Linked DNA regions of Homo sapiens. The protein of the gene in region 1 interacts with the protein of each later gene in a pairwise test. Each region holds a gene or a part of one and is shown on either strand. Other genes may lie near its edges.

The links.
Region 2: the proteins of SPPL2B (region 1) and BRK1 interact in binary tests that used the Homo sapiens proteins (3 or more experiments, as listed by UniProt).
Region 3: the proteins of SPPL2B (region 1) and DR1 interact in binary tests that used the Homo sapiens proteins (3 or more experiments, as listed by UniProt).
Region 4: the proteins of SPPL2B (region 1) and EEF1D interact in binary tests that used the Homo sapiens proteins (3 or more experiments, as listed by UniProt).
Region 5: the proteins of SPPL2B (region 1) and GTF2B interact in binary tests that used the Homo sapiens proteins (3 or more experiments, as listed by UniProt).
Region 6: the proteins of SPPL2B (region 1) and PRPS1 interact in binary tests that used the Homo sapiens proteins (3 or more experiments, as listed by UniProt).

What each region holds. Positions count from the first base shown.
Region 1 is NC_000019.10:2,333,649-2,338,683, reverse strand, and holds part of SPPL2B (signal peptide peptidase-like 2B isoform 2 precursor), read right to left. Parts: intron 4,083-5,035; coding exon 3,963-4,082; intron 1,242-3,962; coding exon 1,059-1,241; intron 1,053-1,058; exon of another isoform or gene 1-1,052. UniProt on the Homo sapiens protein: Intramembrane-cleaving aspartic protease (I-CLiP) that cleaves type II membrane signal peptides in the hydrophobic plane of the membrane. Functions in ITM2B and TNF processing.
Region 2 is NC_000003.12:10,120,685-10,125,719, reverse strand, and holds part of BRK1 (protein BRICK1), read right to left. Parts: intron 95-5,035; coding exon 12-94; intron 1-11. UniProt on the Homo sapiens protein: Involved in regulation of actin and microtubule organization. Part of a WAVE complex that activates the Arp2/3 complex. As component of the WAVE1 complex, required for BDNF-NTRK2 endocytic trafficking and signaling from early endosomes.
Region 3 is NC_000001.11:93,355,409-93,360,443, reverse strand, and holds part of DR1 (protein Dr1), read right to left. Parts: intron 1-5,035. UniProt on the Homo sapiens protein: The association of the DR1/DRAP1 heterodimer with TBP results in a functional repression of both activated and basal transcription of class II genes.
Region 4 is NC_000008.11:143,587,416-143,592,450, forward strand, and holds part of EEF1D (elongation factor 1-delta), read right to left. Parts: exon of another isoform or gene 4,797-5,035; coding exon of another isoform or gene 4,674-4,796; exon of another isoform or gene 3,193-4,673; intron 2,667-3,192; coding exon 1,576-2,666; intron 1-1,575.
Region 5 is NC_000001.11:88,884,317-88,889,351, forward strand, and holds part of GTF2B (transcription initiation factor IIB), read right to left. Parts: intron 3,052-5,035; coding exon 2,945-3,051; intron 1-2,944. UniProt on the Homo sapiens protein: General transcription factor that plays a role in transcription initiation by RNA polymerase II (Pol II). Involved in the pre-initiation complex (PIC) formation and Pol II recruitment at promoter DNA.
Region 6 is NC_000023.11:107,641,262-107,645,509, reverse strand, and holds part of PRPS1 (ribose-phosphate pyrophosphokinase 1), read right to left. Parts: intron 3,145-4,248; coding exon 3,020-3,144; intron 334-3,019; coding exon 160-333; intron 1-159. UniProt on the Homo sapiens protein: Catalyzes the synthesis of phosphoribosylpyrophosphate (PRPP) that is essential for nucleotide synthesis.

The DNA.
Region 1 (5,035 bases):
ATTCGCCTCCTCTCCTGGGACCCTCACTCGAGGCTCGGGTCAGGCTGGGGGCGCCTGCTGGCTCCCCCTCTGCAGCTGACAGCCTCCGGCCCCCCAGGAGGACCCAAGAACAGGGAGGCCGAAGGGCATCAAGCCTTCTTCACCTGACAACAGGGCCCCAGGCCTAAAAGCGCCACTAATCCCTCCCTCGGCCGTGGGACTCCCGAACCGCACATACAAGTCCTGAGTGATACTTGTCACAGCCCATGCCTGCCCACTAAGCCGCCTTGAGCCCCGCACCCACTGAGGGCCTCTCTCAACTACGACGGCAGCGTGTGCGGACAGGGATGGCACTCTCGGCTCTGCCCGGCCTGCTCTGCCCTCGGCCCTGAGCCCCTGCACCAGGCCTCCGTGGATTGCCAGGCTCAGGGTGCAACACTGGCGGGGGCAGCCCAGAGCCACAGGCAGAGCTGTGAGGGAATTCCTGAACTCCATTCCTTCTTACTCCAAAACTACACTTCAGGGGCGGCCACGCACCCTGCCCAGCCCAGCAGTCGGCATGTCCCTGTGCTGTGACCAGCCCTGCCAGGCCCCCAGCTCTCAACCACAGCCCCATTTCACAGAAGATGGAAAAGGGGCCAGGCTTCAGGCCACCTGGCTAGGACCACAGGCGAGCACGGCCCCACCGGCTAGAGGGCAAGGGCACCAGGGTACCCAGAAAGGACCAGCTCAGGGCCAGGCCACCTGCTCCTCAGAAGCCACCCCAATCCCATCCCCACAGAGAGTGTGGTCTCCGTCACCCCTGGGGGCTGCTCTAGGACAGGCACCCAACAAGACCACGGCCAAAGTTCCACAGCCCCAGCCAGCAGCTCAGGAAGAACAGACTCATCTCCGCCCTCCCCACGGCCACACTCGGCCCGGATCCTCCCCATGTTCACACTCGGCCCAGATCCTCCCCACAGATGGATCTGCCTTTAGCGAGAAGTCGGAAGACCAGCCCCAGCTGCTGCCATCTCTGCCTCCTGCACCCCCCTCCTGCCCCTGAGAGCTGGCCCAGCGGGGGACGCACAGGGCCGTACCAGCCTCTCCCTGCTGACGATGAGCAGCCCGCGTGCTCCGCTGCCCTGGGCCAGCCTCACTTTCTCATAGAAGGTGCAGTTCCCCCGCGCCACCAGCGGGATCTGGTTGCTGAAGCCACGGGCGGGGAGGTCGGCTGCGGAGCAGAGCAGGGAGGCCGTCCAGTTGCGCAGCTGCAGGAAAGACTGGAAAGGCCAGGGCACAGTGTTGTCTCACGTGATGTGAGTCACCAGGAGGGCCCAGCTGCCCGTTCTCCCACCTGAAGCCTGCGCTGAGTTAGATCCCAGCCCTCACCTAAAGCCCCGCACGGCCTCGGCCCACCTAGGCAGAGCCATCCCTACTGCAGCTCCCACAGCCGGACCCTGGGCGACGGGCTGGGCTGCCTCATCTGAGCGGGGCCGGAGTCCTCACAGACATGGCTGTCCCCTGATACCTGAGCCACCCCGCGAGCCGTCACAGATCACTCAGCAAGACCAAGTGGGTCCCCACCGCAGCCCCACCACGGCCAGGCATCTGTGAGAAGGGGGAGGGTTTCCAGTGTGCAGAGAACAAAGCCCCAACTCTCAGGGGCCTCACAGCCCCTGAAGCCAAGACACACACGCACACACACACGCACACGCACACACACACCCACAGCCAGGCCGGAACACGCGCACACACAAGCACACGTCCACAGCCAGGCTGGAGCACACGGCACACACATGCATACATGCACACACACACACACACCCACAGCCAGACCAGTGCACACGCACACACCCACAGCCAGGCTGGAGTGCACACACACACACACGCACATAGCCGCAGCCAGGCCAGCGCGCACACACACACACACCCACAGCCAGGCTGGAGTGCATGCACACACACGTGCACACATACACAGCCAGGCCGGACCACATGGCACACATATGCACACGCAAGCACACACATGCACACTCACACTCAAGCAGACACATGCCTATTACACACATGCACACACACACGCACACACAGCCAGGCCAGAGCACACAGCACACGTGTGCATATACAAGCACATACCTGTGCACTCAAGCTCACGCACACACACCTATTACACACACATGCATACACACACGCCACATGAACTCACACACTCACACGCACATACCTATTACACATGCACTCACACACACTCATGCACACACACGAACCCAAACACACAGGCACATACACATCCACACACAAACCTATTATCCACATGTACACACACATACACACAGACCTATTACACATGTACACACGCACACATGTGCAGACACATGCACACATCCACAAACATAACTATTATGTAGCTACATGCTTACACACACCTGCACACATACAGACACACATGCACTCACACATCCATACACAAAACTATTGCATGCACACTCACAGGCACATGTGCACATAAAAACAGACATACACATTCAGACCCATGCACATGCCCCCACACACCTATTACACACATGCTCACACACACAGGTGTGCTGACACACAAACACGCACTAAGGCACACATGTCCATGCACATATCTAGTACACATGTGCTCACACACACAAACTCAGAAATATGCACTCAGGCACATGTCTTCACACATACCTATTACATGTGTTCACATACCTATTACATGTGTTGACACACACCTATGTGTTCACACACAAAAAAACACTCAGGCACATGCACACATACACTGATGCAAACTCACATAAACATGCAGACACATGAGCATGTCCAGGCACATACTGATTACACACGTGCTCACACGCACACACTATGCATAAAGCTGACAGGAAGATGCTAGTGCCTCTTCGCCGGCACACCTCGAGGGCTCCAGGAGGGGGCGGGACACAGTGGGAAAGGAGGCGGGGCCTGAGGGACTCAGTGGGAAAGGAGGCGGGGCCTGAGGGATGCGGTGGGAAAGGAGAGAGGGCCTGAGGGATACGGTGGGAAAGGAGGCAGGGCCTGAGGGATGGGGTGGGAAAGGAGGCGGGGCCTGAAGGATGCAGTGGGAAAGGAGGCAGGGACAGAGGGGTGTGGTGGGAAAGGAGGCGGGGCCAGAGGGATGCAGTGGAAAAGGAGGCAGGGCCTGAGGGATGAAGTGAGAAAGGAGGCGGGGCCTGAGGGATGCAGTGGGAAAGGAGGCGGGGCCTGAAGGATGCAATGAGAAAGGAGGCGGGGCCTGAAGCATGCAGTGGGAAAGGAGGCGGGGCCTGAAGCATGCAGTGGGAAAGAAGGCGGGGCCTGAAGGATGCAGTGAGAAAGGAGGCGGGGCCTGAAGGATGCAGTGGGAAATGAGGCGGGGCCTGAAGGATGCAGTGGGAAAGGAGGCGGGGCCTGAAGGATGCAGTGGGAAAGGAGGCGGGGCCTGAAGGATGCAGTGGGAAAGGAGGCGGGGCCTGAAGGATGCAGTGGAAAGGAGGCGGGGCCTGAGGGATGCGGTGGGAAAGGAGGCGGGGCATGAGGACTAAGTGGGAAAGGAGGTGGGGCCTCTGAGGGAGGGACTCATCCAGCAGCAGGTGTTAGTGCCCCAGTCAGGAAGACGGTGAAAGGAACAGGTCTCGTCCCTGGGGCCCCACTGTGCCCTCTGCTGTTACTCCTCTGAGGACCCCTCTGTCTGGGCCCACTGGATAGGGTCCCCGGCATGGAGCAGTAGAGACCCTTATCTACCACATGGAGCTCGGCCGGTGCCTCTGGATCTGCACCCCAAGGCCGCATGGACAGCTTGCATTGATGACCAGGGTTGGGGAGGCCCAGGGGAACTGGGGGCCAGCTAAGAGTCCCCCAGACCTGGTCAGGGCCTGCCTCTCGCCTCTGGATCTTTCCTGCAACCCCAGCCGGATGTGTCTCTAGAGCCCCGGGGCCCCCGCATTCTCCTCCGCAGCGGCGCCCGGCCAGCGGGTACTCACTGCCTTGCTGAGGTCGTGCGGAAGATGGGCCCACTGCGGGTTGTAGAGGATGCAGTAGTCTTTGCCTTCGGGGCCCCCGGCCTGGGAGACCACGTGCACCATGCCGTACTCACAGGCCACCTGCAGGACAAGGCCAGCAGTCAGAGCCACAGCACGGGACGTGCGGGGCTGCACCGCCCCACGAGAAACAGGCCCGAGGAGGGGAGGACGCCTCCAGGAAGGGCGCCCATGTTCACCAGGTGGTCTGGGATGCTTCCCCCTCTCGACAGGACAGACAGGGACGTGACCATACGTGGTTTACAGCAAAGACCCAGACTGGCTCACCTTCCTCAGGGAGCCCCAGGCTGGTGACCATGAGTGTGTCAGGTCACCCCTTTGTGGCTCCCGAGTTTCTGCACCAAAAAACAGGGATCGCACCACCTCCTGGGCCTCCCAGGATCAGTGGGCACGGTGGGAGAATGACAGCCACGGGCAGAGCCACGGGCAGAGCCCTGAGCAGGGAAGCAGGGCAGGGCCCCAGCGGACCTGGCCCCCAGCCTGGGCGGGAGGCCTGGACAAGCAAGCCTCTGCACCCCTCAGGTCTGGGTGGCCTTTGACCCACAGCCCCGTGGGCACTGCTTGTTGGCTGGTGCTCCAAGGCACACGGGGGCCCAGGCACACGGTGGGGCCCAGACGAGGGGGATCCCCAGATCAGCACCCCTCAGCTCCCACTGGTAGAACAGCAGGAAGCAGGTGGGCCAAGGGGCCTACGGGCACCGGGTCCTGAGTGGGACAGGCTGAGGTTTGCAACAGGTCACGCTGCCACCAGCAGGACAGACAGCGTCATGTTCCCCATGAAGCCCCAAAGCAGCAGAGTCCAGCACAGCAGCTCCCACTTCGCAGGAGGGAGAAGGAACAGCCAGCCAGGGCTTCAAGTTCCTGCTCTCCAGCCTGCAGCAGCAGCAGCTCAGAGAAGGCCACAGGGAGAAGGCCCGGATCCACGGGCAGGAGCCCCTGACACACAACGGGGACAACAGGCCAAAGCCAGCCAAGAGAAGCAGGGGTGGTGGCCACCGCGCCCAGGACAGAACGGG
Region 2 (5,035 bases), on another chromosome or scaffold:
ATCAAACTCACCCGAGCTTCAATGTACTCTATTCTCCGTTCAAGGGCTGTCAATTTCTCGTTTAGTGTTGCAAGTCTTGAACGACAAGACATATCTGAGAAAAAGAGACTGGTGTTCAGGATTAATGTCACTCCAAACACAGACACAGACACACACAACACCTACAATGAAAAAGAGGAATAATACACAGAATACAAATGGAAATGGATACAGTGCTAAGATCCACTCATAGCACAGTTGCTTAGAGTGGATCTGCTGAACTTCCTATCAAGTGTTGCAAGTAGAGAATAACGGCCCCACAAAAACGTCCTTTCCTGCAGGGCACGGTGGCTCATGCCTGTAATCCTAGCACTTTGGGAGGACTAGGCGGGTGGATCACCTGAGGTCAAGAGTTCGGGACCAGCCTGGCCAACATCATGAAACCCTGTCTCTTACTAAAAATACAAAAATTAGCCAGGCATGATGGCACATGCCTGTAATCCCAGCTACTTAAGAGGCTGAGGCAGGAAAATCACTTGAACCGGGGGGGGCAAAGGTTGCAGTGAGCCAAGATCTCGCCACTTCACTCCAGCCTGGGTCAAACAGCAAAACTCTGTCTCAAAAAAAAGTCCTTTCTCTAATCCCTGGATCCTGTGAATATGGATTATACATGAGGAAACAGGGCTTTGCAGGTATGATTAAGGTTAAGAACCTTGAGATCCTAGAGTTTGTCTTGGATTGTCCATTTGGGCCCAATCTAATCATAGTCCACAAATGTAGGTGAGAAAGGCATAGGAAGGGGGTCAGAGATGAAATGGAAGAAGAAAAAGAGATTCCAAGTGTGAAGGGGATGCAATCTGCCATTGTTGGCTTTGAAAGTGGAAGAAGGGAGCCATGAACCAAGGGATGTAAGTGACCTTTAGAAGCTGGGAACAACTCTCAGCTCACAGCCAGCAACAAAACAGAGATCTCAGTCCTACAACCACGAGAAACTGAATTCTGCCAACAACCCAATATTCGAGGAACTAGACCCTCTCCTAGAGCCTCCAGAAAGGAAGGCAGTCCTGCTGAAACCCTGATTGGAGCCCAGGCCAGGAGCAGTGACTCATGCCTGTAATCCTAATACTTCAGAAGGCCAAGGTGTGAAGACTGCTGGCCAAGGTGTGAAGATTGCTAGCCCAGTGACCAGTGTTTGATTTATGACCTACACATGGTAAATAATAAATGTATGTGGTTTAAGCCACAAAATGTGTGGTAATTTGTTTTTTTGGTTTTTTTTTTTGAGATGGAGTCTCACTCTGTTTCCAGGCTGGAGTGCAGTGACGCAATCTTGGCTCACTGCCACCTCTGCCTCCCGGGTTCAAGCGATTCTCCTGCCTCAGCCTCCTAGGTAGCTGGGACTACAGGTGTGCGCCACCATGCCCAGCTAATTTTTTTTTTTTGTATTTTTAGTAGAGACGGGGTTTCACCATGTTGGCCAGGATTGTCTCAATCTCTTGTCCTCGTGATCCGCCCGCCTTGGCCTCCCAAAGTGCTGAGATTACAAGTGTGAGCCACTGTGCCCAGCCTGTGTGGTAATATGTTATGCCAGGAATAGCAAATGAATACACCAAGGCTGTACAGCCATTTACTAATGGCCTAACTAAGACTTTCAAGAGAGGGGACATGGCAAGAATAAGAAAATAATCTCAACAGGAAAGAAACGAGGCTGGGCGTGATGGCTCACGCCTGTAATCCCAGCACTTTGGGAAGCCAAGGTGGGCAGATCAACTGAGGTCAGAAGTTTGAGACCAGCCTGGCTAACATGGTGAAACCCCATCTCTACTAAAAATACAAAATTAGCTGGGTGTGGTGGCGGGTGCCTCTAGTCCCAGCTACTCGGGAGGCTGAGGCAGGAGAATCACTTGAACCTGGGAGGCGGAGGTTGCAGTGAGCTGGGATTGCACCACTGCACTGCAGCCTGGGTGACAGAGTGAGACTCCATCTCAAAAAAAAAAAAAAAAAAAAAGGCCAGGCACGGTGGCTCAGGCCTGTAATCCCAGCACTTTGTGAGGCCAAGGCAGTGGATCACGAGGTCAGGAGATGGAGACCATCCTGGCTAACACAATGAAACCCCGTCTCTATTAAAAATACAAAAAATTAGCCGGGTGTGGTGGCGGGCGCCTGTAATTCCAGCTATTCGGGAGGCTGAGGCAGAGAACTGCTTGAACCCGGGAGATGGAGGTAGCAGTGAGCCGAGATTGCACCACTGCACTCCAGCCTGGGAAACAGAGTGAGACTCCGTCTCAAAAAAAAAAAAAAAGGAAAGAAAGTAGAGGCCAAGAAAGCAGCAGAAATTATGGGGAGGGAAGGTGTGAGAGTTCTGAGCTCATTAAAGCCATGTCACTACTGTTGCTCCTAGAGGCAAAGGCCTTTCAGAACTAGAGAAAAGTTGGAGAGCATCAAATACCCGATAAAGCCCACATTCCATCTGTGAAAACAGCCAAAATTATTCTTCTTCCTCTAGCTTTTCCAATCTTCTTTTACCATCTCATTCAAAATGAAACCAGATTTAATTTAAAACAACTTTTTCTCTGCAAACTTCTGTAACAGGAACTATTCTTTTTCCAACTATTCTCAACATATGAGAGAAAAGGTATCTTAGCATGGTCATTATCTTCTACTCTCTCCTCCAACATTGTTGTTCAGTCATCTCTCAATAAACTTCAGTTTTCAAGTCTGAAATATTCGCTGAGACTCTCCCACGCAATGATTTAACACTTAGCTAACAAGTTTCCTTTTCATCTATTCCCTGGCTGTTTTGCAAAAGCGCTTCAGCATCCATTTTGACAAATCTTCCTACACCCTGATCTTGCCTCAACTTTCATCTTATTATGTCCAAATCTTACTCATCTTGCCTGCCTATCTCCTTCAAGGCTAAGTTCAAATTCTATCTCTGAGAGGTCTTGCCAGATGGACATAATAATTCTTCCTCTTCTGTATTTATCTAAACATTTACGGATGAATTTTTTTTTTTAAAAGAGACATGGTCTTGCTCTGTCACCCAGGCTAGAGTTCAGTGTTGCAATCATAGCTTACTGCACCCTCCAACTCCTAGGTTCAAGTGATCCTTCCACCTCAGCCTCCCGAGTAGCTGCAATTACTACTCAGTAGGTGGATGCCACTGTGCCTGGCTAATTTTTTTGTTTTTTGTTTTGGTAGATATGGGGGTCTCACTTTGTTGCCCAGGCTGATCTCAAACTCCTGAACTCAAGCAATCCACCTGCCTTGGCCTCTCAAAGTCCTAGGATTACAGGCGTGAGGCACCGTGCCAGCCTCTGAATTTCTAATTTGTAAGTTATTCATGTACTTGGTCTTTGGTTATGACTTCCCTCTTTGGATAAAGATTTTACAAATAAGAATGTGCATCACTACTATTTAAGATGGTGAAAAAGCAACAAAACCAAATGCCCATGATTGGAATGGTTTGATATAGCGTATTAATGAGACTATTAAAATAGCCATTGAAAGTTACAAGTGGCCAGGCGCGGTGGCTCATGCCTGTAATTCCAGCACTTTGGGAGGCCGAGGCGGGCGGATCACCTGAGGTCGGAGTTCAAGACAAACCTGACCAACATGGAGAAACCCCATACCTACTAAAAATACAAAAAAAAAAGAAATCCTGTCTCTACTAAAAATACAAAATTAGCTAAGCATGGTGGCGCACACCTGTAATCCCAGCTACTCTGGAGGCTGAGGCAGGAGAATGGTTTAAACCCAGGAGGCGGAGGTTGCAGAGAGTCAAGACTGCACCACTGCACTCCAGCCTGGGCAACAGAGCGAGACTCCATCTCAAAAAAAAAAAAAAAAAAAAAAAAAGTGGCCGGGTGCAGAGGCTCACGCCTGTAATCCCAGCACTTTGGGAAGCCGAGGTGGGTGGATCACCTGAGGCAGTGAGCCGAGATTGCACCATTGCACTCCAGCCTGGACAACAAGAGTGAAACTCTGTCTTAAAAAAAAAAAAAGTTTGAGGAATATTTAATGAAATAGGAAAATATTCATGTTACGAAACCAAATGATATTTATGTACTTGTAATTTACAATTTATTTACATGTCTGTTTCACCGTTAGAACAAGTTAATCAAAAGAAGTACATATTGCCTCTTGTAACCTTAGCATCTTGCCTGGTACATAGATGTTGACTGAAAAAAAAAAGATGGATTCTGGTATATTAGTGGAACAAAAGATTGACTCTAGTGTAACTCTATTCACCTTACAAGTGGGAAAACTGAGGTCTAGGTAAGCTGAGGGCCCATGTTGGGTCACTGGTATTCTTTCCCATACTGTGTGCATCCCAATGCACACTACTATCATCTTTCTGTGCCTCCGGGGCTATAATTTATACCCCAGGTCTCCAGCCCAACTCTGCCACTTTCCATTCTTTCACCTGCTTAAAGTATACAATTCAGTGGTTTTTAGTATACTTACAGAGTTGTGCAATAATTATAATCTACTTTTAGAATATTTTCATCATCCCCAAAAGATACCTTATACCTCTTAGTCCTGTCACTCCCCATTCTGTCACCCCTCAGTCCCTGGGAACCACTAATCTTTGTCTCTATGGATTTGCCATTTCTGGACATTCTTCATTCTTTTTACGCTTGTGCTGCTTGAATTCCCAGGTCTAGCTTAAGTATGATCACTTCAGCATCCCCCTTTTCCTGGATGTACTGCCACTTTCTGTCGGAACTGCCCAACAGGACCAAGCCTCTTTTCAGTCTGGTTTTTGGAAGTCTGAAAGCACGTTATGTATGCTACTGAGTAAGAGCATGAATATTATCTCTGACAACCTGCCATTTCCCATGAAGACATACGAAAATTATTGGGGGAGGTAGGAGAGAGGGAAGTTTCCTTCCTGGGTGGCTATTCTGTTCTAGCTGTCAATCTGGTAATGAATTAGAATTCAAGAACAATACTATGCTCCTGGCCTACATGGATAAACACTGTTGAGAAATAGAAAATGTTCAACTGCAGAAACCTTGGTCATATTTCAAATCCTAATAAGTATACGCTGGTT
Region 3 (5,035 bases), on another chromosome or scaffold:
ATATATACACTTTGGTTAAATGTAGATTAGGCCAATTTCAGACAGTTTATTATCATACTTGGATACTGTCCAAGTACTATGTAATTGTCACACATCTGGAGAACATAAACTCTATAGGTAAATATAATTAGAGATTGCTTTTTTCTAACTACACAGGTCTAAGAAATTTCTCAAACTTGGATCTCTTATAAATGGCCCTGTTTTATTTCACGTAATTTATGACCTTTGATTCAACTGAAGAAGTTGAAAAAGTGGAACCAATATTGTGAAAAACCCACAATATTCCCTCTGGCTCTTTCCCTCTTCTTTTCCTTTCATTTCACTTGACTCTTCTGTACCCTCATATTACAACTTTGATACAAACATTTTTCAATCTAAAATTTATTTATATGGTTTAAAAGTTCTCTAGTATAGTACCTCTACCTCATAGGAAAGAAGTACTGTACATGTATGCAGTAGCTACCCCATTATTTCTTTCTGAGTTTCTATTACAATTCCCTAACCTACTATATGCCTATCTCTCTGTGTCCCTCATTCCCTCTCTGTAAGTACACACATTTGCATATACACACATACAAATATACATATCCTTCCCGTATACACACTAGTAAAAAGATACTACTTAAAATCCATTCATCTGATATATCCTCTATTAAAAACAACCACAGGATTTAAGAAACCAGGATGCATACATTATTAATTACCTATGAAACAGCTAAGGCTCCTTCACAATTTAATTTCATCTGTTTGCAGAAAAACCACACCAAGAAGGGAAAAAATGAACCTGTTCTTAAAAAGGTCTTACAATTTCCCATTAGACTCTGCCAAAACAATCCTTTTCTCCTTCTCTGTCTGTTCTTGGAATTGTTCTTTAAGTCCAACTCAGACCCTCCCCTTTATGCATAGCTAATTCCTAGTCATCATCTGAAATGCAAATCAGCTAGTCTTTCTTGACCTTTCCAAGCCATATTTTATGCTCTATTTAATATACCATAATTCCCTATGCATTCCCATATCCATCCACTTTGTTCTAGAATTATCTAAGTTTATATCCTTTTTTTCCACCACACTTGAGAATAGAGATTGTTTCCATATTCTTTGTTGCATTCCTAACATAAAGGCCCTCAGTATTTTCTGAATGAACATGCTACAGGAAAACAGTGATGCCCAGCATAACCAGTAACATTTAAGATTTTACCATGTACAATCCTCACTCTTCTGAATAATCTGTCATGACTTTATTATCCAAACATTTCTAGATATAAATTCTAATCAGGTCACTATTTCATTTTTTTAAAAAAAATCATTTGTTATCAATCAAATCCAAATTTCCTAGCCTAGAGTTCAAGGTCTTCCAAATTAGTGTCTACCCCAACCTCTCTATAGTCTTTTTTTGTAACATGTACTTTGTGCTTCAAAAAAGCCTAGAACACAAAATGTTTCCCAAATATACACCATACTTCCTCATCTTTGCTACCTTTACTCATGCTGACACTCATCCTATGTGAAATTTCCTGCCACTTACTGAAATTCTACCCTTCCTTCAAGTCAAACTGAAATACTATTTTCTCCTCCTGGCATCAGTCAGTGTATAATCAAGAGATAGATGTCACATGAGTTACTGGAATGGAAAAAATTTAATACGAAGAATTGTTAAACAAGTATAAAGTTGTTATTAGGGAGCTGAAAAGGCAGGAAGAGAACATGAAGATGTCATGAAAGTAGCAGCTACAGGAAGCAGCCACCAACCCTAAAACTGAGGGAATAAAGGAAAATGCTGGAATTTTTAAAATTTAGAAGCTTAAGAAACCACTTCATGGAACTGAAACTCAGGCCTCGGAAGAATGGGCATAGATAAGCTAGTACTAATATATCTGCGCTTGGAGGAGGGCCCCAAGGGTTGGGATCCACACTGCCAGAGTGGGGGGATGGGGTGCGGGTTCAGGCTGGTGGTGTATTAGAGAAAATGCAAACCGCGTTCAGTCTCTGCTACAGGAAAACTGATGCAACCAGGGTGAAGAAGTGTTGCTGGGTTGTTCAAAGGAACTGAAAGACAAGAGAAAGTAAGAGAAAACCCTTTCTCTTCCTCCATCCATGCAATCTCCCACGATAGCCCCATATGGCAACAGAGTCTAATGGAGAGTCAGCTAGCAAAGAAACATGTGGCTTGCAGAGTACTAGGTCCAGTCACAAAGCAGAGCATAGAAAGGTGGGTCTGGAGCTAAGATAATTGCTTACTAGTTGGCATACTCCTGTACCCCTAAAATTTGATGTAATGTTTCCATACTTGGGATTTCTTTCTCTTTCCTTCTTCCCTCTTTCTTTCTATTTTTGTAGAGAGAGGGTCTCACTATATTGCCCAGGTTGGTCTCAAACTCCTGGGCTCAAGTGATTCTCCCACCTGGGCCTCCTAAAGTGCTATGATTACAGGTGTGAGCCACTATGCCCAGCCAGAATCTCTTTCTCATAAGTGGTCAGCCTCATATTATAGTTATCTTCCTCATCCAAGTAGTCAGTCTCATAATGATATATTCTTCATTTTTTTTTATATCTATAGTACCACATATGTCTTACATACAGTAGGGACATGTTAATTGAATTCTGACTTGAAATTTGTTGACTGAAGGGCAGGAGTAGGGTGGTGCTGGTGTAGGTGGCAGTAGTGAAGTGGAAGAAGAAAAGCTATTACCTTGGGGGAAAGCTATCCAAGTAACCATAGTATCAGAGACTAATAAAGGAAGAGGTCTACATTAAATGTTATTTTTAAAAAAACAGATGAGTAAGAATTGAAAGGAAAAAAAATTACTGAATTTGGTGATTAAATGCCTCTGTGGTAGGACAGAAGTTAAATTTGAGGAATAAGTGATTGTACATTTTCAAAAAATGGTAGCACTGATCATTATTTATTTATTTATTTATTTATTTTAGAGATGGGGTCTTGCTATGTTGTCCAGACTAAAGTGCAGTGGCTATTTACAGGCATAGTTGTTATGCACTGCAACCTTGAACTCCTAGCCTCAAGGGATTGTCCTGCCTCCATCTCCCGAGTAACTGGGACTACAGGAAGGTGCCACCTTGCTTGGTGGGTAACACAGATCATTATAGCAAAAGATGAAAGGGTTTGGGGGATACAAGGAAATGCAGAAGACCCGTATATGGTTAAAGGCAAAGAGGAAGAAATAAGTAAGGAAAAGACTATAGATATTAGAAAAAACAAGGATAAGACAACTTTTACAGTAAACAAAAACTTCATTTTGCTTAGGAAATTAGAAACCATCCATTCTCCCTAATAATGACTGTCATCCATTTTTGTAAAGAAATAGGAAAAATAGTTGATTCTAACACAATAGCATATTTACTTTTACGGCAGGAATATCCAGAGTTCAAAACCAACTAACAGAGCTTCGCTAAAAACATTTTAAGGCCGGGCGCGGTGGCTCATGCCTGTAATCCCAGCACTGTGGGAGGCCAAGGTGGGCGGATCGCCTGAGGTTGGGAGTTTGAGACTAGCCTGGCCAGCAGGATGCAACCCTGTTTCTACTAAAAATACAAAAATTAGCCAGGCATGGTGGTGCATGCCTGTAATCCCAGCTACTTGGGAAGCTGAGGCAGGAGAATCGCTTGAACCCGGGAGGCGGAGGTTGCAATGAGCCGAGATAGCACCACTGCACTCCAGCCTGGGCAACAGAGCAAGACTCCATCTCAAAAAAAAAAAAAAAATTGTAAGAGTTCATAAGAAAATTGCAGGGCAAATCAAATACATAAATTCAACCAACATAAGCATACCTATATTTTGTGGTCTAATCAACTACAAGTTGGTATAATTTTGTGACATGGAAAAAATTCAAATAATTTCAAGTCTCTACAAAGGTTTTACTGCAAAGGTGCTTGATTTGGTAGTCTATTCAATGGTCTGCAAAGCTGTGTACTAGTTACATTTCAAATTTAATTGACTTTTAGCTACCACGGCCCTGTATCAGCGCTGATACTTTTCTCTGAACATAAAAACATTTCTATGCCTTTAAAACTAACTGTTGAGCTGGGCTCACTAGTGCACATCTATAGTCCCAGCTACTCATGAGGCTGAAGCAGGAGGATCCCTTGAGCCCAGGAGTTCTAGGCTGAAGTGTGCCTGATCGAGCCTGTCAATAGCCACTGTGCTCCAGCCTGGGCAACATGGTGAGATCCTGTCTCTTTAAAAAAAAAAAAAAGTTGATTGATAAAATTTTATTTGTATTCATTTCCACAAATTGAACATTTTTCAGTGATATTTACTGTAATATATTTTTTTCTCTCTTGCCCCCTACTCAATCCATCCCAAGTATTTTTCTTCTAAAATTGGGGTGTGAAAGACAGGTAAGCAGGCATGTATTTCCTAATTCACTTTTCTTTTGGAGGTTTTCATTATGTTTTAAGATTCTCACTCCCACATATTAAAATGACTCATTTATAATTTAAAGTTAACTTTAATCTTGATGTATTAAAGGTTCCCTCCTTCCAAATATTTGCTGCTAGCTTCAAATGAGGCTGTCATTGTGTTAATATTTAAAGTCTAAAAAATGAAACAAAATGAAAGTGATAAAAAAGATATATTTACTTATCCACTCTTTCATATTTAGAACTTCAGTGCTCTAGGGAAGAAGTACTAGGCAACTGCTATAATATTACCTCTCCGCTGGTCATCCTCACAATAGTAAAGAAATACTAGAGATCTTCATACATAAGTCAGGGTAAGAAACAAGGGAGACAAAAAAGAGGAATAAAAAAACAGATAATAGGGATAGAAAGGTGAAGACAGATATAGCAGGCAGTCAATTATTTCTTTATATTTTGCCCTGGCAAGGATAATACATATTCTATTTAAAAGCCCCATAATAAGTTTAAGCATATAAAATGGAGGCTAGAGCATCAGCATGGTATGTTAGAAACAGTACAGGCTTTTGGGTCAAAATACCTAAGTTTAAATATAGACTCCAACACTTCCTAACTTTCTGAACTTACTGTTTTATTTAAGTCAATCTTTCCCACTCAATCT
Region 4 (5,035 bases), on another chromosome or scaffold:
GCCTCCTGGGTTCAAGCGATTTTCCTGCCTCAGCCTCCCGAGTAACTGGGACTACCAGTGCACACCACTGTGCCTGGCTAATTTTTTGTATTTTTAGTAGACAAGGTTTCACCATGTTGGCCAGGCTGGTCTTGAACTCCTGATCTCAGGTGATCCACCCGCCTCGGCCTCCCAAAGTGCTGGGATTACAGGCGTGAGCCACCGTGCCCGGCCCATTTCTCAGTTTTAATTGCTAATGTGGTAAAAATCAATAGATACAATGAAAGCTCTTTGGGGTCCTGAGAGCAAGAAGGTTGAGAATTGCTGCCCTAGACAGGGACCATGGCCCGCAGGCAAATCCAGCCTGTGGTTTTACTGGCACAAAGCCCCACCTCGTGCCACTCCCACTGGCCAGCAGCAGAGGAGCTGGGCAGATGACTCTGTGGCCGGGGCCCAGACCCTCTGGTTCTTTATGGAGTTTGCCGCCCCCCACCCTGGACTGGCCAAGACCCTCTTACTGTCCAACCAAGCACAACAGAACTGTCCCCCTCCTGCCCTGCCGCCAGTCTGTGTGTGGACTCCGGACCATCGCTGGACCTTGCCAAGTGTCCTCTCGGTAACAAAGGGCTGGAGTCTGTGAGCGTCCTCTGCGTCCCTGACCCAGGACACTCTCTCGGCAAGGAGGGACCAGGCCACCGTGAACACCAGGGCAGGTGGAAGGGCAGGAGGTAGCATTCCCCTATGGGGTCCTGCCCTCAGGTTATCTTGTTAACCAGCAAATCCAGACCCCTAGGGGTCCAAGGTTGGAACCACTTCCTTGGGGGCCTCAGCAGCTGCTTGGGACCTTCAGAGTCCTTCCCTGACTCAGCCCGCCCCACCACCAGGACACCCTCGCCAACAGGCCAGCCTCGCCACTTCCATGCCCTCTGTATTCCCCTCCAAGTCCAATCGTCCACCCACCTGCCTGGCCCCAGAGACCGCTGCTGGGGTTGCACCTGCACCCTGGAGCAAGCCCACAGCACCCAGAGGGAGGTCACACAGACGGGGCACCCTGGGATGGAGGCCACCTGACCAGCCACATGCCCATGCATCTGAGACGCCACCACCTTCCCTCAGAGGTGGTTTCAGGTGACAAGGAAAGCTGGGGGTGCACAGGATGGACAGGCAGGGACACACTGGCTCCCACATCTCATCGCAGGGGAGCGCTAGGGCCAGAAACCAGCTTCAATGCTTCCCGCCCCTATAAGTAGCCTTATCTTCTCAGCCCTGGCATGTGACAGCCACAGGGGACTTGGGGAGCTTCCCAGCCAAAGAGGGACCCTGGGCAAGGCAGAGATTCTGCCCTGTGCTGAGCCCTTCCCTGCCCTCATCCAGGCAGCCTGGAACTTTGTAACCTCAAGCAGTGTCCCTGGAACCCACAAGCGCAGCACCACCTTTACTCAGCCTGCTCCTGCATTCAACTCTGCTGGGCCCACGGGTCTCGGGGAGCCCCCACCCCAGGTGGGCAGGGGAGGAAGCTGGAGGAGCCCCAGCCTGGGATGGCTGTCCCTGTGCCCACAGCCCAGGCTGGGTGCCCACCCAGCACGTTTCTCCTACTTGGGTCTCAGGCTGGACACGGACAGGCCAGACCGAGGACCGGGTCGGTGAGACAGGGAGGCAGCTTCGAGGCACCAGGCCACCCGCAGGGCCTCGGCAGCGTGGTGGCGGCACTCGGCGCTGTCGTAGGCAGGCTTGCTGAGCCAGGGGGCCTCTGCATCCTTCTGCAGGAAGTAACAGTAGGGCAAGGCAGAGGGGGCCTCCCCATCGGCCCGTCGCAGCCCGGCCCGCTTGTTCCCTAAGATGTTGCGGCCCCGCCGGTCTCTGCGGCCCCGCCGGGCACCCTCGGCCAGGCCGGCTCGCTCTTGCAGGCGCACCTTCCCTGGGGGATGGCCGTCAAACAGGGCCTCGTAGAAGCCCCTCTCGGCTGCATCATACCGGGGCTTCTCCAGCCACACCTCCCGAACCAGTGCCTGCAGGCTGCCCAGCGGGGGCTGGCCATTGACCGGTGGGCTGGGCTGGTGGGCCAGGTCGGGGACGGCCACCTGCTGGCCTGTGTTGGGAGTCCCCTGCCTGCGGCTGCCGTCGGGGGCCAGCAACAGGGCCTGAGACCACTCCACGAAGGCCCGCTCAGCCTGGTCGAAGGAGGACTTGTTGACCCAGATCCCCCAGGTCACGTGGTGGCAGGCCACCTGGTTTCCATGGGTGCAGAGACCCCAAGGGGCCAAGGCAGGAGGCCAGGCTGCCTGGGCAGCCACATCTGCCAGCTTCTGGCGGTAGGAGCTCTCTGCCTGGTCGAAAAGTGACTTGTCCAGCCACACGCGTTCGGCCGAGAGGCCCAGGAGGGCCAGGTCCGCGGGGCCGAGCCCGCTCTTGGGGGAGCGCTTCCTCTTTTTCTGCAGGGGCTTCCTGCTGTCCTGGCTCTTCCTGGGATCACGCCTGCTGCCGCCGTCAGGGGCTTCCGCCTCATCAGCGTCCTCAGGGTCGTCCTGGCCGGGCCCATTCATGGCTGGCCCCTCGGCTGGCAGCTGCTGGGCGGAGGCGGCCGCCTGTGTGGCCTCGTGTTCGTAGAAGCGCCGCTCGGCCTCCTCATACTTGTGCTTGTCTTCCCACACGGTCTCCAGGGTGCAGGAGGCCTTCCCGCTCCTCATCTTCCGGACACAGCGATAAAAAGCAAGCAGAGGGCAGAGTTGCAACACAGCGGGTGGCCGCAGCCCCGTGCCCACCCTCCCCGTGCCCGCCCTCCCCGTGGCTGCCCTCCCTGGGCAGGGGCTGAGGATGCTCCCCAGTGGGGCTTCCATGAGATGACATTCGAGGACTTCGAAGTCAAGCCCATGTGGGGACGTTTTGTTGTGAAGAGAAAACAGGCCGGGCGCAGTGGCTCATGCCTGTAATCTCAGTACTCTGGGAGGCCAAGTGCCTCCCAATACATGAACAATATATAATTTTGTTAGTGAATGTATGGCCCATGAAGTATCTGAGACATACTTACACTAAAAATTTTTCGTCATTTATCTGAAATAAGCTTTAACTGGCTAACTAGCTTTCCCTGCATTTTTCCACAGGCCAGGCCTGGCCACCCCACCATGGTGGCTGGTGTTCCCATTCTACAGAACGGTCTCTGTGGCTGTCCTGGCCACACCACTGCCACACCCAGAGCACCCTCAAAGTTCTTACAAAAGAAGGAGCCTCGGCCAGGCACGGTGGCTCACACCTGTAATCCCAACACTTTGGGAGGCCGAGGCGGGCGGATCACAGGGTCTGGAGACTGAGACCATCCTGGCTAACACGTTGAAACCCTGTCTCTACTAAAAATAAAAATAAAAATTAGCCGGGCGTGGTGGCAGGCGCCTGTAGTCCCAGCTCCTAGGGAGGCTGAGGCAGGAGAATGGCGTGAAGCCGGGAGGCGGAGCTTGCAGTGAACCGAGATGGCGCCACTGCACTCCAGCCTGGACAACAGAGCAGGGGAAAAGAAAAAAAAAGAGGGAGCTTCTTTGTGGGCCTGACTGTCCTCCCCAGGAGGGGGCCAGGTGGCCGGGCAGAGGGTGGAGTGCCCACTCATGAAGGAGACGCCAGGGAGGATGCTGGTGACCACTGTGTAGAAAGGAGGGGCCAAGCGCCTGGAGCACTGAGACGGCTCTAGGCTCTCTATCAGCTGCCCCCGCCTCCCAGCTGGAGTCCATACCTTTGGGTCCATCCAAGCTAAAGGGGAATCATGGGGCTCTCACAGTCCCAGGACATCAGGGCCCCCTCTAAGGTTTTGCTTCTGTGTAATGTTAAGAGGGACCATCTTGGTGGGAGGCAGGTTGTGAGGCTCCACTCCCCACTTGCTACTGTGGCCTGGGAGCCTCAGCCTCCTCCCTGGATGAGGTGTTCCCTCAAGCTCTGGGCGACCTCAGTCACCTGCTGCCCCAGTGCTCCAGCAGCCATGTGGGATCCTGCCGGGGGCACGCTCTGCTCCCAGGTGTCCAGTGTGGTGTTACAGAAAGGACAGGCCCAGAAGGCCAGGGGCAAATCTGCTCTTGGGATGCAGGTCAGCACCCCAGCCCGCGCTCAGCCTGCGATAGCTTCCTCCCCAGCCATGCCCGACTCCAGGCTCTGCTCCCCAAAAGCAGAAACGCCTGGGCCTAACCAACGCCTAGGAGCACCCTCAAGAGGGGGCTGTGCAGCTGCCCCTCACAGACACCGCTGCTAGTCTGCTGCCTCCGCAGGTGTGTCTAGTGGAGCCTGAGGGCAGACAGACCCAGTGGCCCCAGGGCACCGTGACTGGGACCACCTGCCTGGTCTGCACCCAGAGGGAGGCAGCCTTCGGTCAAGAGCAGACCCTTCACACCAGTGGCTATGGGTCTTCGCCCCTCTTCTAACATCCTTACCCAACAAAACCAAGGCTGGCTCCAACGCCCCCCGTGGGGTGCTGAGCTGTCTACGCTCCACCCAGGCAGGGAGGACTTTTGGGAAGGCACCCCTGGCACTGCACTCTGCAGCCTCTAAGTGGAACATGGAGTTCTTTGCGGGCATGTGGCCCGAATCCCGCAGTCCCAGCAACAAGTTCTAATGGCACCAACGAGGAACCGGGGCCCATGGGAGGCCACAGGGCCCATGAAGACGCTCCCTAGGCTCCCCTGCTCATTCCTTCCCCAGGCTGGGGCAGCACTTACCAAGGCCAGGCTGATGGGCAGAGGCAGGGGTTGTGGGTTGGGGGTGGGGTGGGAGCAAGAGCCCAGGAGACAGGGCATTGTGACATCGTGCGGTGGTACCCCCACCAGTCTCTCTGCTCCCATGGAGCCGTGCAGGTCCCATCAGCAGTGCCACTGAGCTGGCCCCCAGTGTTGATGCCCTACCAGACTTTATTGGCCAAAGTGGCCTCAGACTATGTTCTTGGGGGCTCCGGGCAGAAGCCGCCGCTCAGGGAGGGGAAGCCACTTCAAGGCTCCTACCGAGACCTGGCACTGCCACCTGTTCCCTGCAGGGAGCCGCATGTCAGCTGCTGACCCGCCAGCCCAGGACAGGACCCTGCTCA
Region 5 (5,035 bases), on another chromosome or scaffold:
CACCTCGCCCAACACTGACTTCTTGAATAAACAACTGCAAAGCAGCAATAACATTGATCTAGTCATCAAGAGCCAAGGAAAAATATACCTGAGCTAATTTGCCTTAACTTTTAATTGACTACTGATGTTGCTCCACTGTCCTCAACTCTTCAAGCAACTGTTCTTGGTGAGATGCTAACAGTCTTAAATAAATTTATTTTCTCTGCATACATTTCTTCAGCTGTTGCAATCAAATATGAATTAACCTATCATTGGTAAATGGCTTTCCTTGCTTGGCCAAGAAATAAGCCACTTAGAAACTTTAGTTGCAGCCTCAGTTTCATTCTTTTATTTTTGTGAAAAAATTCTGTTGTGTTAAGATATTCTATTTTACATTATTTTCTGACCATTGTTTTCCTGAGTTAGAAATATTCTGATGAGTGCTCAGTATGGTAATGTCCACGCTTACTGTATTCTTTTAACACAGCTACAGTATCATTGTGTAATAAACACAATGTTTTGCCATCTAATTCAGTGACAAAATAATCCATACTCCACCATGCCTTAAAAGCATGACATTCAAAGTTAACTTTTCTTGTTTTGGTGTGATGGATATGTAATGGTAATAAAAACAAATAAATAAAATAGTGCAGTATGGCAACATATGTGGCGATCAACATGTTGCTGTTATAACTGCATCACTGCAATTAGTATGCTGAGCAGCAGAAAAAAAGTGATGAGAGCTGCACATGTGGTTTCTGTTGAAGCTACTAAGCTCTGCTGTTGTAATGTGAAAAGAGTCATATACACTATGTAAACAAGTGAGTGTTGCTATATTCCATTAAAACTTTATAGATACCAGGCCAGGTATGGTGGCTTACACCTGTAATCCCAGCACTTTGGGAGGCTGAGGCTGGTGGATCACCTGAGGTCAGGAGTTCAAGACCAGCCTGGCCAACATGCTGAAACCCTGTCTCTACTAAAAATACAACAAGTTAGCCAGGTGTAGTAGTGGGCCCCTGTAATCCCAGCTATTCGGGAGGCTGAGGCAGGAGAATCACTTGAAACTGGAAGGCAGAGGTTGCAGTGAGCTGGGATCGCACCACGGCACTCCAGCCTGGGCAACAAAAGGGCAACAAGAGCGAAACTCTGTATCAAAAAAAAAACTTTGGCCAGGCGCAGTGGCTCACGCCTGTAATCCCAGCACTTTGGGAGGCCAAGGCGATCGTATCACCTGAGGTCAGGAGTTCGAGACCAGCCTGACCAATGTGGAGAAACACCGTCTCTACTAAAAAAAATACAAAATTAGCTGGGCATGGTGGCACATGCCTGTAATCCCAGCTACTTGGGAGGCTGAGGCAGGAGAATCACTTGAACCCGGGAGGCGGAGGTTGTGGTGAACCGAGATCACGCCATTGCACTCCAGCCTGGGCAACAAGAGCAAAACTCCGTCTCAAAAAACAAACGAAGAAAAACTTTATAGATACTGAAATTTGTATTTTCACATGTCCTAAAATATTATTTTTGATTTTTTTTAACCATTTAAAAATGTAAAAGCCAGAATTAACAAATAGGCCATATATAGGTTGTACTTTGACGACCCCAGATTAAAATTTTATTATTATGAAAGGCAATACAAGATAGAAATCTGCCTCCCACGCAGACAATGGAGCCAGTCTTCTAGACTACCTAAACGTCAGTTTCCTTATCTGTAAAATGAAGATAATGGTAGTACTCACCTCACAGGTTTGTTGTGAGGATAAACTGAGTGAATATGTAAATCATTTAGAATAGTGCCTAGTATATAGTAAACATATTAGCTATTAATATTCCTTACTCAGCAGAATACGGTTGCAAATGATTCTCAATTCCTATTAGCAACTCTATACTTTAAAACTCCCACTATAGGTCTGAGGCAAGCAGCCTTCTTGGACCAAGTAAGTCAAGTCCACAGTATGCCACTACTAATGCTTCTGTTATACTGCCCACAATCCTTCTAGAATTTTCATTCTTAAGTAATTCAAACTGCTAAATATTACCCCTATTCTCAGATGCTACAACTCCACCACAAGAATAATTTTTGAACAGACTATCTGTAGTCTAAAGTTCTGCTGCATATCTAGATTAGTGTGCAAGTAGGAACAAGGTGAAACTTTAAGTGTTATTTTTGGCAATAATTTTATACAAGATATTCATCAATAGATGACTGTATAAAAGTTATAATAAATCTTCTTTTTGACTAAAAGGCTTTAAGTGGGACTCAAAAATCATGTTTATCTACTTCCCAATGTATAAAAAAGCCACAAAAGTTTGATTACATGTATTCATTATTTAATATGCATGAGTGTCAGCCCATCTCTCCAGTCCTCTACCAAATATTTCAGACTAAGGACTTATGAAATTACTGGGGCCTTTTCGTTTCTTCTGGATTAGCTCCCACCCCACATTATAAAAATATACATTTGGATATACAATAAAATATATCTCTGAATAAGTTTACTCGTTTCTGTTTCCTAATTGTTTTTTTGCAATAAATTATTTGTTGGGGAAGAAAGTCAAAAATGTGTTCATTAAATGATAGTTTGGAAACTATGCAAAAGTGAAGGACCCTAAACATTATTATTATTATTATTTTTTTTTTGAGACGGAGTCTTGCTCTGTTGCTCGGGCTAGAGTGCAGTGGCACGATCTCGGCTCACTGCAACCTCCGCCTCCTGGGTTCAAGCCATTCTCCTACCTCAGCCTCCTGGGCAGTTGGGATTACAGGTGCCCACCACTACGCCCGGCTAGTTTTTGTATTTTCAGTAGAGATGGGGTTTCTTCATGTTGGTCAGGCTGGTCTCGAACTCCTGACCTCAGGTGATCCTCCCACCTTGGCCTCCCGAAGTGCTGGAATTACAGGCGTGAGCCACCATGCTTGGCCTCCTGAACAGTAATTTAAATTAAAACCATAATAACAACTCACCTACAACCAAGCCACATTCAGGACAGATCATATCACCGGCTCTGTAGTCCTCCACTAAAATCGCATCTGGATGGTTTGGACATGTGACTCTTGGAAGAGCATCCAAACTAAAAGAAAAAAGTTGTATTTTTACATCTTCCCAACCAACATGTATCAAATTAATCTTCTGGGATGGGGGATGGGGAAGACAAAGATTGTGAACGTTTTTTCATACATACAACTGTAACACATATAAGCTAGATTTTCAAAGTAAACATCCCAGTTAGGTTATTTTAAATTCCAGCTAGTAACTGGCAAGTAGTTTCCACTGGAATTCTTATTTTATTGTGGAAGGCTTTCAAAACATAAATAGAAAATAATTGTTTCTTCTCTCAATATGTATGCCAGTAAGACTTTTAGAAATGTTGATTAGTATAGTAATGACTAGTTACCGTAATAACCTGCAGCATTTACATTACCATCCAGTTTGTGCTCTTTGCCACTTATTTCTCTAGTCAGAGAACAATTTCTCTCTGTATTTTTCTACTTGTTAACTACTTTAGTAACAGATTTAAATAGTACACTGAACCCAGTAAGTATAGAAATGAGGGATGGTAGAAGTTGCTCTGCTGAACTTAAGACTTGATGATTTCCTTTAGTCCAGAATTGAGTTATTGAATTTATCATTCAAGAAATTGTTTCAAAAGCTACTTGTTATCTGTGATATTAATAATTAGCTCAATTTATTTTGAACAACAAAGCAGTTTGCAGAAGACACATTCATCTTTTTTTGACACATTAATCTTAAATGATCTGACAGAATCAGCTGTAAAAGCAACAAAGATTTGATCATTATTTCAGGGGGTATGACCTCACAATCATAAATTCTTGGTATCACTGCAAATAAGGCCCTTTTAAAAACCATCTGAAATACAATAAATGGTTAGGTTATGGACATCAGATACACGTAAAAGACAAAATCAACTGTTCTTATAGTATGTAAATAGTATTTGTGGTTTGGGGTAAAGTTTCTCATGCTAGCAAATACAATTCAGAATGTTAACTCTCAACTCAGAAGGTGATATCTACGGGAAAACTGATAAAATAATCCATATTCCCCCCTAAACTTATCTAGTCAGCTTAACTAGAATATGTCTTGAATCTTCTCATTGGGAACACGGGGGGATGAGTATTACTTCATATTTGTGTTTATTCCATAAATTCCTCTAAGGAAAGTATTTTAATAAATTATGACAAATAAAATTAAACAGTTGATATAAATTATGAAAAACCATGTTGAAATAAAGGAAAATGTTAGCAGAGTAACAGTAATTACAAATTAGTAAAAGAGGAGGCCATGTGCAACACGTGCTAAGAACTAATATCTCTGCAGTATTAAAAAGTAGATAGAAAACTATAGTTTGTGTAATGATACAGAAACATCTCAAAGATATGAAGAGTGAAGAATAAGGTAGAAAACCTATACAAAGCTGAAAAGTATGAACTAACCATACACCATAACATGGATGAACCTCAAAATACTAACAGAATCTAGACAGCAGAATACATATGCCATTTATGACAACTTTAAAGCAGGCCAAATGAATTGATGGAGTTAGAAATCAGGATGTGGTTTTCTCAAAGGAGGGGGAATGACTGAGGACAGAGACTTTGCTAGTGTCTTAGCTAGTGCTAGTGGTATCTGATTTCCTTACCTGGGTAGGAGCTATATGTATGTGCTCACTTTGTAACTGAGCTGCCCACTTTTAAAATGTGCTAACTTCATTAAAAAAAGGTAAAAGCAAGGTAGTGAATGGAGTTTAAATTAGGTCACTTTCGTGGGGGAAGAGAGGTTAGAACTATTCCTATACATTTGTTAAAGCATAAACACTAGGAAAACACCAAGAGACTAGTAATTATGGCTGATCCAGGGAGACTTAGATGGCTGGGAGCTAGGAAAGGAGGAAGACTACTTTTCATGGTTTTAGTCTATTGCAATTTTGCTTTTGGACCATTTGTATGTGTTACCTATCAAAATAAAAGTATGCTAAATTAGTAAACTTAATCAAATTACCCACAATACAGAAGAGGAACCATACAAATGGGGTGGTG
Region 6 (4,248 bases), on another chromosome or scaffold:
ATTTCTATGTATTATAATTTAAGCCTTGGGTGATAAAAATCTCACAAAGTTACTTATCCCCTCAATTTGGTTCCAAAAGGAATCAGCAGGCTGAAGACATTCAGACAGCAATTGCTAGCTTTTTCCTTCTAACTACCAGCCCCATCAATCCACACTTACTTGTCAGCTGCATGGCAGATTGTGCCACAAGTGTCAGCCATGTCATCCACAAGGATGGCCACCCGATCCTTCACATCTCCCACAAGCACCATGCGGTCCACTTCATTGGCCTTCTTCCGTTCTTTGTGAATCAAGGCAAAGTCCACATTCAGCCTGTCTGCAATGGAGGTCACTCTGCAAAACAGAGCGTGTTCATATGTATGTGTGGCTTCTAAGACAAAAGAAATGGACTAAAGAGGCCGGGGGCGGTGGCTCACGCCTGTAATCCCAGCACTTTGGGAGGCTGAGGTGGGCGGATCACAAGGTCAGGAGATAGAGACCATCCTGGCTAACACAGTGAAACCCCATCTTTACTAAAAATACAAAAAATTAGCTGGGCATGGTGGCGGGCGCCTGTAGTCCCAGCTACTCGGGAGGCTGAGGCAGGAAAATGGCGTGAACCCAGGAGCTGGAGCTTGCAGTGAGCTGAGATCGCGCCACTGCACTCCAGCCTGGGTGACAGAGCGAGACTCTGTCTCAAAACAAAAAAAAAAGAAAAAAAGAAATGGACTAAAGAATGGGCTTGTTTTGGGGAGGAGAATACTCCTTGAAACCAATAGTTCCCAGGGCTGGAAGAATGAAAGCAACTATCATTGACTTCTCAAAGGCAAATATCACAAACTGGGTTTTATAAACCAGTGCCTCCATAGCTCAACAGAAGCTTATGAACGTACTGATCAAACTTAGATGAGTATTCATTCTGGGTAGAGGACAGACACCCTCACCAGTACTGGGAAGCAGTATAACGCTAAGACACGCAAGTTTATTTAATGGATTGGCAGCAGAAGGAATGAGGAAAGAATTAACTAATGCCAGGAGTACACAGACTGTCCCAATTCCCATCATGGAAGACCCGTGAATGGGGATGTGGTGAGAAGAGAACCTGACTGGCAGGAGAGGAGCAGCATCCAGCCTGTTCCAATGCCTGTGTCCTCATCACTTCCCTCAGTGCTGTTGGCAAAACATCCATCAACTGTCACTGTCAACTGTACCTGGACACCAAGCTTGGGAGTTTTTTTCACAATTGCTAGACAGAAAGTTATATCAATTACCCAGACAAGCTAGGCATCTCACCATTCGGTCCAAAGTATCTTCCAATCAAAGAGAATTCTTATTTTTCTTATTACAAGAGAAAATAAACCAGACTAGAAGGTAGGATAGAAGACAAATTTGTCTTTTGACAAAGTACCACATAATTCAAACAAAAATCTATTCAGTGTAAATGACAGTGAGCTGCCCCAGTGGCACGTCTGTCCATGCTCCGCTGTGCCATCTCCGTCATGTGTGAAGCAGCCCGTGCTTGGGGATTTGTCCTGTTTTTTAATGTAGAACTGAACAAACTATAGCATTTTGTCCTGTTTCTCTTGTGACTATGGTCACATGAGTTTTTGCTGGATAAGTGAGAACCTGTGACCACATAATAAGGTTTGAACCATAATCTAGGTAACATTTGTACCTTGATCTAAACCAACCATACCCTGTACTCTCCATTACTACTACTGCATAAGCACATAACATCAGTGGTAACCAATTCGCTTGGAATGATTACTTACCCAAGGCAAATGCATGATCAATTAGTTCAAGTATCCCAAACCAACCATACTCAAAGGCCAACAAATTCAGTGACCAACAAAGCATAAAAAGGGCTAGAAAAAGTAACTCTCTACACCTTTTGAGGAGAGAACTACTGTACAAATGAATATCACACAGGGATCTCTACCTACTCCCCAAACCCTGCCAACACAGAAGTGATAGACACTCAATTGTAAAATACTCCATCACTATAAGACAATGATAATGAAAAAAAAATCAGGTAGCAATAAGTTGTCTACTAAAGGCAGTTTTCCTATACCCACCTTTGGAAAGAAAATCCTGCCTATTTCAAATGTGACTATTTTCTAAGTCCCACAGAAAGATATTAAAATAATGACCGACAAATTAAATATGACAACTACTAGTTGGGGGGATGTTTCTTAGGCTGTCTCTAGCATTACAGATGGTAACTAGCAATTACATGGGACTCACCAACCCATATATCTGGCTGGATAACATAACTCAAGTTCTCAGCTTATCAGTTCTGTTGAAGTTACTGAAATAAAAGAGGTTGTTGAGAAACAGTCATTGAAGATTTGAATGGCTTTTAGAAAGTTCTGAATTAGCTCTTCCTAATCATCTGTGTTTTGTAGCTCTTCATTCTATTTCCACAACAAGAAGAACATGTGTCACACTTTTGAATGCATTACTAACGAGTAATCCACTAAGGAAATCAAGAGCTCTTAGTCTGCACCATGTGAGCTGCAAAGCACTGTTAACTGGCAATCCCTGGCAATCAGTTTGTTTAAAATGTTAAGATCTTGGCTTTAAATAAAAATGTCACACTTTACTTTCCTTCCTGCTTAATATTTTAATCCCAAGGATCAAAATGATCTAACCAACAGCATTGTAAGAGGAGTGTAAAAGCGAATTTGTCCACCAATATGTGGTTCAATAGCAGCTGCTATTCATTAGAAAACCACATTTTCTACCCTTCCCAAAAGGTTTATAGCTGTATTGCTAGCTCTGTAGCACCAAGTTACTCATAAGTTATAGTCAAATCCATAATATGATGATTTAGGACCCCTTTTCTGTCTTGTCTTCCGAGTAGTAACTGAGGACAGTAAAAGAGGAAAGGGTAAAACTATATTCAACCCATGTGCTAGCTACTTACATCCATTCAAAAATACTTAAAAACTGCCACTTGGATAGAAAAACTTCACTTTGTGACACAACCATCTGAAAGATTTTCCCAGTACATTGGGAACAATACTAATTTCAACCATACCTCTTAGCTCCACCAGCATCAGGTGAGACAATAGTGCAGTTCCTCCACTCAGAGATATTCTCCCTTATCCACTTTAGGACAGCCGGCTCTGCATACAAATTGTCTACTGGGATATCAAAAAAGCCCTGTAGAAAGAAGCTGGATCAGTTTTGCTTCACTTTCCTTCTCTTCCATTTATAAATGGCAAACACAAAGTAGTAACTTGCTCAGAGAATGTCTTACTGCAACATTCAAACTGATGGGAAGGCAGGCCCAGTGTGGTAGATTATAAAAGCCTCCTTGAATCTGGGCTATGTGAGAGAGCCCAGCCAAGATCAGCAAAGCCAGCCCTCAGTCAACCCACAACTGAACATAGGAACATAAGTGAGCCCTTGTAAAGAATGGCTAAGTTCAGACAAAACCATTAAGAACTGCCCAGTCAACATGCAGACTCAGTGAGTTTGTAAATACTGCTTTATGCCACTAAGTGTTGGACTGATTTGTTAAGGAGTAAAAGCTAATGGATAAACCAGTTAGAGATGCTATGGCATATAAACTTAATGGAAGCTACTTATGATAAATAGTCACAGTGAATAATTAGAAATCAGGAGATCTGTGTTCTAATTCTAGTTGATACAAATTAGTTGTATTTCTCAATTAAGTCATTCCTTTCCATAAAAGGAGTACAGTCCCTGTCCAATGTACTTCATTGAATTCCCACAAGCTTGAAATGTAATGATTTGAAAAATCTCTTTGAAAAAATATAAAATAAAGGTGGTATTCCACCCCCCTTACTTTGGGTTTATGTTGGAAAGTAGGCTCCAATATCTGTGGCTCTAAATTTAAGACCATGAGGCCAGGCACGGTGGCTCATGCTTGTAATCGCAGCACTTTGGGAGGCTGCAGCAGGCAGATCACTTGAGGTCAGGAGTTCGAGACCAGCCTGGCCAACATGGTGAAACCCCATCTCAACTAAAAGTACAAAAAAGTTAGCTGGGCCTGGTGTCAGGTGCCTGTAATCCCAGCTACTTGGGAGGCCGAGGCAGGAGAACTGCTTGAACTGAGGAGGCAGAGGTTGCAGTGAGCCAAGATCGTGCCACTGCACTCCATGAATATTCAAGGAGAATAAGAATGATAATAACAGCTCCTATCTATGAGTACCTGTCATGGGCCAGGCATTATAATATGAATTTAATGTTTTATACTCACAATAATGAAAAAGTATATGTTCAGAGAAATTAAGTAACCTT